Homo sapiens: one gene and its partner. The protein of the gene in region 2 purifies or fractionates together with the protein of the main gene of each other region. This does not show direct contact. Each region holds a gene or a part of one and is shown on either strand. Other genes may lie near its edges.

The links. The genes of interacting proteins can lie anywhere in the genome.
Region 1: the proteins of TFRC (region 2) and CD9 purify together in Homo sapiens (co-immunoprecipitation; 2 studies listed by IntAct). This does not show direct contact.

Annotation. Positions count from the first base shown.
Region 1 is NC_000012.12:6,227,397-6,232,227, forward strand, and holds part of CD9 (CD9 antigen), read left to right. Parts: intron 1-4,831. UniProt on the Homo sapiens protein: Integral membrane protein associated with integrins, which regulates different processes, such as sperm-egg fusion, platelet activation and aggregation, and cell adhesion.
Region 2 is NC_000003.12:196,057,149-196,062,337, reverse strand, and holds part of TFRC (transferrin receptor protein 1), read left to right. Parts: intron 1-2,090; coding exon 2,091-2,158; intron 2,159-3,705; coding exon 3,706-3,764; intron 3,765-3,972; coding exon 3,973-4,054; intron 4,055-5,189. UniProt on the Homo sapiens protein: Cellular uptake of iron occurs via receptor-mediated endocytosis of ligand-occupied transferrin receptor into specialized endosomes. Endosomal acidification leads to iron release.

The DNA of each region.
Region 1 (4,831 bases), on a different chromosome or scaffold from region 2:
CATGTTGGTCAGGCTCGTCTCCAACTCCCGACCTCAGGTGATCCTCCCGTCTTGGCTTCCCGAAGTGATGGGATGACAGGCGTGAGCCACCTCGCCCGGCTGGAAGACACTAACATTTTTGAGCCCCCTTCTTTGTGTGTCATTCATTGTCTTGTGTGTATTATATAATTTAATCCCCTTAGCTCTACGAGGAGTGTGGAGTGATTCTCATCTCACAAGTGCAGAAACCGAGGCCTAGAGAGCTGAAATAACTTGTCTAAGCTTATATTCCCTCAAGAGGCAGGGCCAGGTTTTGAACCCAGGCCTAAAAGAGCTGCTTCTCGGGTTGTCATTGCCAGGTTGTGGGGTCTCCCTCTGTAGGAATGGAAGAGGTCTGTACTGGCTGAATGTGCCCCATTGGCAGGGATGGGGTGGCGCTGTCTTGGCCCTTTTACTTCACCCAAATTGCAGTCAGGGAGAGAAACCCCTGCGTCGGTGGCCCAGCCAGCAGCTGACAGGTGGGAAAGCTGCAGGGTGGCAGGAGAATGGTGAGTGCCATTAGAGGAGCTGGGGCTCACCTCTGGGAACCTCACAGGATTCAGATCCTGCAGGTCATTGCAGGGCCCTGCTGGTGGCCGGTGGTCCTACCTGAAGTGACCAGGAGGGTGATTTGAAGGCACAACCCCAAAGAGACACAGATCCCCTAGTTGGGGTCTAAGGGCCACTGTCCACTTAGCTCTGCCAGGGAAATACAGATCCTTTGCAGCGACACCCCATTCGGGGAAGAGAGCGGAGCTTTGAAGACTTCGTTCTGCCTGCAGAAGCGCCGGCAAGGGGGATGATGCACGGTAAAGTTAGAACAGCAGCACTGTGTCTGGGCACAGTGATCAGCCCTGATCTCAGGTGATCCGTCCGCCTCAGCCTCTAGCACTTTGGGAGGCCGAGGCAGGCAGATCACCCGAGGTCAGGAGTTCGACACCAGCCTGGCCAACATGGCAAAACCCCACTTCTACTAAAAATACAAAAATTAGCTGGGCGTAGTGGCGTGCACCTATAATCCCAGCTACTCGGGAGGCTGAGGCACAAGAATCTCTTGAACCTGGGAGGCAGAGGTTGCAGAGAGCTGAGATCACACCACTGAGGCTCTGTCTCCAGCCTGGGAGACAGAGCGGGACTCCATCTCAAAAAAAAAAAAAAAAAAAAAAACAGCAGCACAGCACTCTGAGCACTGCTTAGGTCTGAGCTATGCCCTGAACGTCACTGAACGCTTTAGGAAATAATAATTGTCGTCCATGGGCAAAGGGCCAAGGAGGCGTCGCTCTGTGTCCCCTTCCCCACGAGGCTGTGAGACCAGCCTTCTGTACTGGCCCAGAGCCCTTCTCCTAGCAGATGAGCTTGGAGTGCCAGCCACACCCTGGCTACTTTTCCAAGGAATAGTCATGGGGTGACCGCCCCTTGCACTGGGCCACCAACTGTCTGCAGAGCAACCCACAGGCCAGCCTGACCATGCAGCTGACTTTTCAGGAAACCTGAACAGCCCAGGGGTGTCTTTTCTCCAGTGGGGCCACAGCTTACCAAGTAGAGAAAGAGTATATAACCAGGCAGAAAAGCAAGTGAAAACCTTTCCAACATTCAGAACAGTCTATGGTAAGTCCAGAGCAGCTGACAGCCTTATATGGGCCTTCTCTCCAATCCAGGCCTGGAGATTCAGCCCGTCAGCAAGATCCCTAATCCCAGGCTGCAAACTTGTTGGGGAACTTCATTTTCTTGGTCCTAGGCCAGCAGCCTTTCCCAGCTCCCTGGTGTCCCTCCAGAACCATGGCTGCTGAATGAGGGCATCTAGGGGGGCTCCAGCCAGAGGCCGTGAATGCCCCCCCTTCCTCGGCCAGCCCCCTATCCATGATGAGGTGCCTGGTGATTTTCAGGACACGCGACACTTGGCCTTAGTAAGCTGGCATCCCCATCCTGGCTTGTGACCTGGGGCAGTTCATTTTATTGCTCTGGGCTTCATTTTTCTCCCTCCTGAAACCAGCACAGCTTACACAACCACAGCACAGCTTACACACCCACTCCCCTCTGGGGCAAAGAAGTACAGCGTGTGGCAAATGGAATTCCATTGTGGCACTTATTCCCGTGAACTCGGGAGGGCGGGAACCAAGACGAAACCAGTCGGGGCAGAGGTAGGGCTCCTTTGAACACCTGGTGGAGTTATTTGGATATAATAAACTTTTATTGCAGGCCAGAGGCCCTACCGGATTTTGTTCTCCTTCACACAAACGGGCGTGGTGAGTGCTGTTTGCAGGACAGAGCTGGTGTAGGGACGGGAGCCTGCTGTGTCCTCTCCCTGGGCTAAACTGAGAGCCCTGGTGAACAGTGAAAAACACTGTTCCATTTCTTGTGTAAAGGACACGCTGGCATATGCTACTGCTGCTACACCAGCCTTTCTTTTTTTTTTTTTTTTCTGGGCCTGTAATGTCAGCCTGAAAAAAGCAGAATAAACAACCCTTAAGCAAATTAATACCGTAATCCTAGAGAAGGCTCTGTGATGGATAACTTTTTCCATGAGTCAGACAGCAAGCTAACATTCGCTTGTTTTATAAAGGGGAACACTTTGTCATTTATCAACAGCAGCCTTGGCTAACAAGCTTGGGGTGTAAGCGATGAGTAGCTTCTCCAAAGGGAAGCACTGAATAGCCCTTGTAAAAACCAGCCCGAGCCCTGCAGTGGTTCCGTGACTTCCATGGGGCCTGCTTCCAGATGAGCTGTCCTGTAGCTTGCCGGCTGCTGCTGAGTCCCCGAACACAGCTGCCAGGGGATCGCTTCCCTTTTCCCGTGACTAGAGAGGGCTAAAGCTAGGCACTGCAGATCCGTAGCCATCCACGCAAGATTTAAAGCCCACAAAACCCGTGATCCTAAAATCTTCCTCTGCTGAGCCCTAGCATGAATATTTAATATTAACCACAAGCCCCATTAGGAGCATGTTCTCTTTCTCTGCGTGGGAAATACTTTCTCTTTAGTAGCTCACTTGCAGCTAATCCAATTCCCTTGGCCTCTGCCAGGACCGCCAGGTTCAAGAACTGGGATCTGGACTTAGAGAAAACATGTCTGCCTGTTCGTTCCCACTCCACGGTATTTCATGTGTTTGTAAATCCTTTTGATCTCTTAATACCTCCTGTTTATTCAGCCCCTGCTATGGAGCTCAAAGGAGTGACCTCATCCTTCCTTGACTTGCCCCCATTAGATGGGGAGAAACTGGGGCCTTTCTACTGTCCCCATGTGAGAGAACCAAAGGAGGCTGCCCTCTTACCCAGTGCTCCATGCATGGGGCTGCACAGCCTCCCCAAGCCCAGCTTGTGGCCTCAACAGCGTTTGACTGCCCAGGAAGATGCGACCTGACTTGAGGACAAGCTACATTTGTCCCCTTGCCCAGTGTGGGCCAGGCATGCACAAGAACAATACCCATATTCTTGCAACATGGGGTTTGCCAGTAACCCCACGTGACTTGACCTCACGACGGATGTGGGGGAGAAGGGGGAGGAACAAACGCTCTCTGTGTGCATTCTGCTCTGTGCTGCCCGTGAGCCTCAGCTGCGGGCAGACTGCATGGTTTGTTGCCTGCAAAGTCTCACCCCTGCTCGGGGTGCAGATGTGGGACAGTGAAGTCAGCGTGTCACCTGCCGAGGGTTCTCATCGAGTGTCCTGCTGTGTATTGTGGGGAAACATCACAGACTTTCTCTCTCGCGTGCGTGTTTTCAGCCCCTACATCAAGGATATCTCTCTGGTCCCAGTGAAAGGACAGTAGGGATACAGCAGCAGGTTAAAATTCACCATGGTGATTATTAATGATTGTTACTCATGCTTGGTATAATTGAGATTAACAACAGCTAGCATTTGTTGTGCACATGTGGATTATATCACTTAATCCTCACAGCAATCCTGGAAGTGGGCATTATTGCTACTCCTGTTTTACAGATAGAAAACTGTTGCACAGAGAGGTTAAGTGGCTTCCCCAGAGTCACAGATCTGGTGCTCTCGACATGTGACAGTAGCCTCTCCCAAGGCTAGATAGAACATGCCTGCAAGACAGGGAGGCACAGAGACTTTGCTGCTGGTTTTCCTTTGGGACCCATGTAGGGCTGGGGTGCTGATTAAGGGAATAGTCCCTGCAGGACAGCTGTGGCTTCTCAAGAATAGAACTGTGGGGTGGCCCCTCTGGGCATTCCTTTGGTGGGTTGTGGAACGAATGGGGCCAGTGCTGCTCTACTGTTTGTGTCCCAGGAATTTGCATTGTTCTGGGTTTGGGCAAAAGTTATAGAAGTTGCTGCCCTTCTCTCACCTCCTTTCCATGAGCCACTCAGATCAAGGGCTTAGTAATGGTGTCACTCATCCTCTCCTTAGCAAGGAGGAGCCTCTTCACCCTTAACCTGCAATAACTGAGTTATGACTGTTAAGATCTTGTTAGCATGCTATAGAGATCTTTTGAAATTTCCAGGAACATACCTCTTTAATTTTACTAGTAAGGAAATTGAGGCCCAGAGAGGGAAAATGTCTTACCCCAGGTCACACAGCAATTAGCATCAGTGTTAGGGCCAAAAGAAGGGTCTTCTGACACCCAGATCTGTGTCCTTTGCACTAGAGTCAGGTATTGGACCTTTGCCAAGAGGTGCCTTTGGGTGTTCCTAACTGTATGTGCCTAACCACCACCCAGCAACAGGGCAAAGAGGCCCGCCTTCTGGGAACAGGCAGAGTTGGTTCCCCCCACCCCTGGGTAGGGGGGTGCCTAGGTGTGCACGGCCCCTTCCTGCTGGAAATCTGCTCTGACAGCGTCCTCTGTAAGGCAGGGTCCCAGAAG
Region 2 (5,189 bases):
ATGGTCTCGAACTCCTGACCTCAGGCGATCTGCCTGCCTCGGCCTGGGATTACAGATGTGGGCCACTGTGCCTGGCCAGATAAACTACTTTGAAGTGGAAGAAAGCTTTTTTTTTTTTTTGAGACAGGGTCTCACTGTATTGCCCAGGCTAGAGTGCAGTGGCACAATCTTGGCTCACTGCAGCCTTGACCTCCTGGGCTCAGGTGATCCTCCCACTTCAGCCACCTGGCTAATTTTTTTTGTAGAGATGGGGTTTTGCCATGTTGCCCAGGCTGGTGTCAAACTCCTGAGTTCAAGCATTCTATGTCAGCTGCCCAAAATGCTGCGGTTACAGGCATGAGCCATTGCCCTCAGCCTGTATCTTAACCTTCCTTTAAATAGTCTGTCAAGTTACACAGTGAGCACAATTGCTTGTCTAGAACAGTGGGTAGTTCTCAGTGTGGCCCCCAGATGAGTAGCATTAGGAACTGTTACGAATGCAAACTGTCATGTCTACCCCAGACCTTTGAGTCAGAAATGGGAGTGTTGGTCTAAAAACTGGGCTTTTTGGGCTGGGCGCAGTGGTGCACGCCTGTAATCCCAGCACTTGGGAGGCCAAGGCAGGCGGATCACCTGAGGTCAGGAGTTCGAGACCAGCCTGGCCAACATGGTGAAACCCCGTCTCTACTAAAAATACCAAAATTAGCCGGGTGTGGTGGCGAGTACCTGTAATCCCAGCTACTCAGGAGGCTGAGGTAGGAGAATCACTTGAACCCGGGAGGCAGAGGTTGCAGTGAGCCAAGATGGCGCCATTGCCCTCCAGCCTGGGCGACAGAGCGAGACTCCATCTCAAAAAAACAAACAAAAAAACTGGGCTTTTTTTTTGGCAACCCTTGGGGAATAAAAACCTATTATTTTCTTAAGGACAAAGTATCCTGAAGCAAAAAAACCCAAACAAAGAAACAAAAAACTTTAACAAGCACTACAGGTAATTCTGATGGACTAAAGTTTTAGGACCATAAGTCTGGACTATATTGAGGTGAGAAGAAACTAAACTATGCCATATAGAATGGTACTTAGAGAGTAATTCACATCCTGTTACGTTGTGGCATCACTGATAGAAATATTGGATAATGAAACTTCTAGAAGAGTTTGAATGTTCACTGGCAGCAGAAAATTGACAAAAGGGTTTGAATGTTATTTAAAGTGCAGCTGTACATTCAACAGGAATGGGGTAAAAAAGAAAGTGCAGATGTAGCTGATGAGCTGAGAATAGTGAAATGTCTACATGGGGGAAAAAAGGAAAGAGTTACAATTAAACCTCTCTAGGTTAGTTATTTCCCTGTTGTATGTTTGCCGCAGAATGTGCTGAGTATAGCAAGCATACTATGTATAGCTCTAACCTGGGTGAACCAGAAAGTTAAACATGAAATTGCTAATGGGGGAGGCTGCACATGTGTGGGGGCAGTGGATTTATGGGACCTCTAGGTACCTTTCTCTTAATTTTGCTGCTGAACCTAAAACTGGTCTGATTTTTTTTTTTTTTTTTTTTTTTTTTTTTGAGATGGAGTCTCGCTTTGTCACCCAGGCTGGAGTGCAGTGGCGCCATCCCAGCTCACTGCAAGCTCCGCCTCCCGGGTTCATGCCATTCTCCTGCCTCAGCCTCCCGAGTAGCTGGGACTACAGGTGCCCGCCACCACACCCGGCTAATTTTTTGTATTTTTAGTAGAGACGGGGTTTCACTGTGCCAGCCAAGATGGTCTCGATCTCCTGACCTTGTGATCCACCCGTCTGGGCCTCCCAAAGTCCTGGGATTACAGGCGTGAGCCACCGTGCCCGGCCTAACTGCTCTGATATTTTTAAAAAAGGTGACTTGGATTAAAGTATGCAAACTCAAGGAGTAGTACGAGCCCACTTGAGTGAAGTTAGCTTAGTTGCTAAAGAGCTTGATACCAAAATTACTTTTGTTTACTTGATGAATGGGATAGTTGTTGCACAGGGCCACTGATCTAGATTACTGTCTTATTTGTCAAGTACTTATAGTTGTAGAAGTAGCAGTGTGAAAATTATCGGAATGGAGAAGGGGCAATGATAAAACAATTTATTTTCAGGTACCAGCAACTTCAAGGTTTCTGCCAGCCCACTGTTGTATACGCTTATTGAGAAAACAATGCAAAATGTGAGTATATACCTCATTACAAAAATGTATGACTTAATTTTTGTTGAATCAACCTGAGATAAAAAACACTGATATGTAAACCGTAGTCAGTAACAAAAAATAGGAATTGAGAATAAATTTTATAGCAGCGTTATTTAAGGGATACTTGCCTATTGAACCATATGAGATGAGGGCTCCAATCTTAAAGAATATGTTGTTTATTTAGGAATATATAACAAAATGCCATGAGGCCTAAGCTGTAGTGCAGGGGCCCACAGGGGATTGTCTATAGAGTCACAATGCTAAGGAAGGCTTAAATCAACTTGAACTATACTTTGAGAAGGCCGGAGGAAATATTCATTGAATAAACAATTACCATAGTTTTGAATGAGGGAGAGCATGTGAAAGAAAATATTTGCCTATGTGGGGTGGGGGGAGGGGAGAGGGATAGCATTGGGAGATATACCTAACGCTAGATGACGAGTTAGTGGGTGCAGTGCACCAGCATGGCACATGTATACATATGTAACTAACCTGCACAATGTGCACATGTACCCTAAAATTTAAAGTATAATTAAAAAAAAAATAAATAAATAAATAAAAAAGAAAATATTTGCCTAATGGGATTAGAGGCTGTATATTGGAGTGAGTAAAGTTAGAAACAGGTCAGATAGCAGACATTGGCCTTGATCCAAGAGATACTAGGGATTATAGGATCTCAAGCAAGGTGATCATGAATTTGCCAGTTAGGTTGGTGGCATAAGATGCACTAGAAGGAAGAAACCAGAAACAAGATAGGCATAGTGTGAAGCCCAGAGAGGGCTTTTACAATTGTGGGTAAGCCACCATGGTTTTGTTTGTTTGTTTGTTTGTTTTTGAGATGGAGTCTTCCTCTGTCTTCCTCCAGCACTCAGGCTGGAGTGCAATGGTGCGATCTTGGCTCACTGCAGCCTCCACCTCCTGGGTTCAAGCGATTCTCCTGCCTCAGCCTCCTGAGGAGCTGGGACTACAGGTGCACACCACCACACCTGGCTAATTTTTGTATTTTTAGTAGAGACGGGGTTTCACCATGTTGGCCAGGATGGTCTCAATCCCTTGACCTCATGATCTCTTGACCTTGGCCTCCCAAAATGCTGGGATTACAGGTGTGAGCCACCGCGCCCAGCTTTTATTCATTTTTTTTTCCTTTTTTTTTTTTAAGAGATAAAGTCTTGCTGTGTTGCCCAGGCTAGTCTCAAACTTCTGGGCTCAAGTGATCCTCCCAGCTCGGCCTCCCAAAGTGTTGGGATTGCAGTTGTGAACTACCCCACCCGGCCTAGGCCCACTTTTAAAATGTTAATTAAGAAGAAAACATTTTTTCCTCACCATAACTAAAGGAACTGACAACATGAGCCTAGTTAGTAATAACTTAAAGTTGAGATTGTTTTAACTATCATAAATAATTTCTTTTCAAGAAGATATAATACAAGTTTTTTATTTAAAAATTGTTATAGAGTAACATGTTAGTGACTAGCCTGAATAAATAAGTTCCAAAAGGTTAGTTTTAATGATAATTTCTTATCTTACAGGTGAAGCATCCGGTTACTGGGCAATTTCTATATCAGGACAGCAACTGGGCCAGCAAAGTGTAAGTTGAGAAAAGTGAATGAACAAACTAATAGAAAAGCAGAGATTCTACCTACTACATTAGGTAGAATCTAAATCTGTCCTTGCATTGAACTTACTTACACCTAAAGATATTCAGCTAAAGAATTTATTTTGGATGGGGGGACTAGCACGATAGAACAGTCTATTCTTTAAAACACTTTCTAAAGACACATTCTTTGTCTTTGCAGTGAGAAACTCACTTTAGACAATGCTGCTTTCCCTTTCCTTGCATATTCTGGAATCCCAGCAGTTTCTTTCTGTTTTTGCGAGGTAAGTCTGTTCATTTAAATGACAAATGGAGAGAGGCTCTCTAAAAGGAAGTGATCTGTATTTGGGAATAGGGCATTGCAATGGGAATGCCTGTGCTATAGTCAACTATGTACATATTCAGAGGAGTAAAGGAAAACAAGTTTTTAAGGACAAATGACGAGGATTACAAAATTACTTTGAGGTAATTATTCTTGGCTACCAAGATCAATAACAAGGATGACACCAGTCCAAGGTTGACAGGCAGTTGCTAGGCAGATTTTCTCACGAGAGAAGTTTTTTGGTGCAAGGTTGCAGTGGCCTTTGTGTAAGGTTGTAGTTTTTGTAAAAAGGAAAAAAAAAAACCCTTAATCCTTGTTATCAGACATACAAGGGTGAGACCCTTCTCTTCAGGGTTGCATTTTTGTTAACACTAGTGACTCCATTTTGATTTTGACAACTTGCACATATCTTAGTTGTTGGGTTTTTTTTGTTTGTTTTTTGTTTTGTTTTTTTTTTTTTTTTTGACAATGGTGACTTGCTCTGTCACCCAGGCTGGGGTGCAGTGGCCCGATCATGGCTCACTGCAGCCTCAAGCAGTCCTCCCCCTTCAGCCTCCAAACTGTTTGGATTATAGGCAAGAGCTACTTACTACACCTGGCCATGGATCTTCTTGTGTCAACTTTGAGACCAAATTTACTGCAGTGCTTAAAATGTTTTAAGAAGTTATACACATGTGCTGGATGTGGTAGCTCACGCCTGTAATCCTGTAGCAGGACAAGCCGCAGACAAATCCCCTCAGACACCGAGTTAAAGAAGGAAGGGCTTTATTTGGCTGGGAGCTTTGGCAAGACTCACGTCTCCAAAAACTGAGCTCCCCGAGTGAGCAATTCCTGACCTTTTTAAGGGCTTACAACTAAGGGAGTCTGCGTGAGAGGGTCGTGATCAATTGGGCAAGCAGGGGGTACGTGACTGGGGGTTGCATGCACCGGTAATTAGAACAGAACAGAACAGGACGGGATTTTCACAGTGCTTTTCTATACAATGTCTGGAATCTATAGATAACATAACTGGTTAGGTCAGGGCTCGATCTTTAACCAGGACCAGGGTGCGGCAGCGCTGGGCTGTCCACCTCTGCCTTTTAGTTTTTACTTCTTCT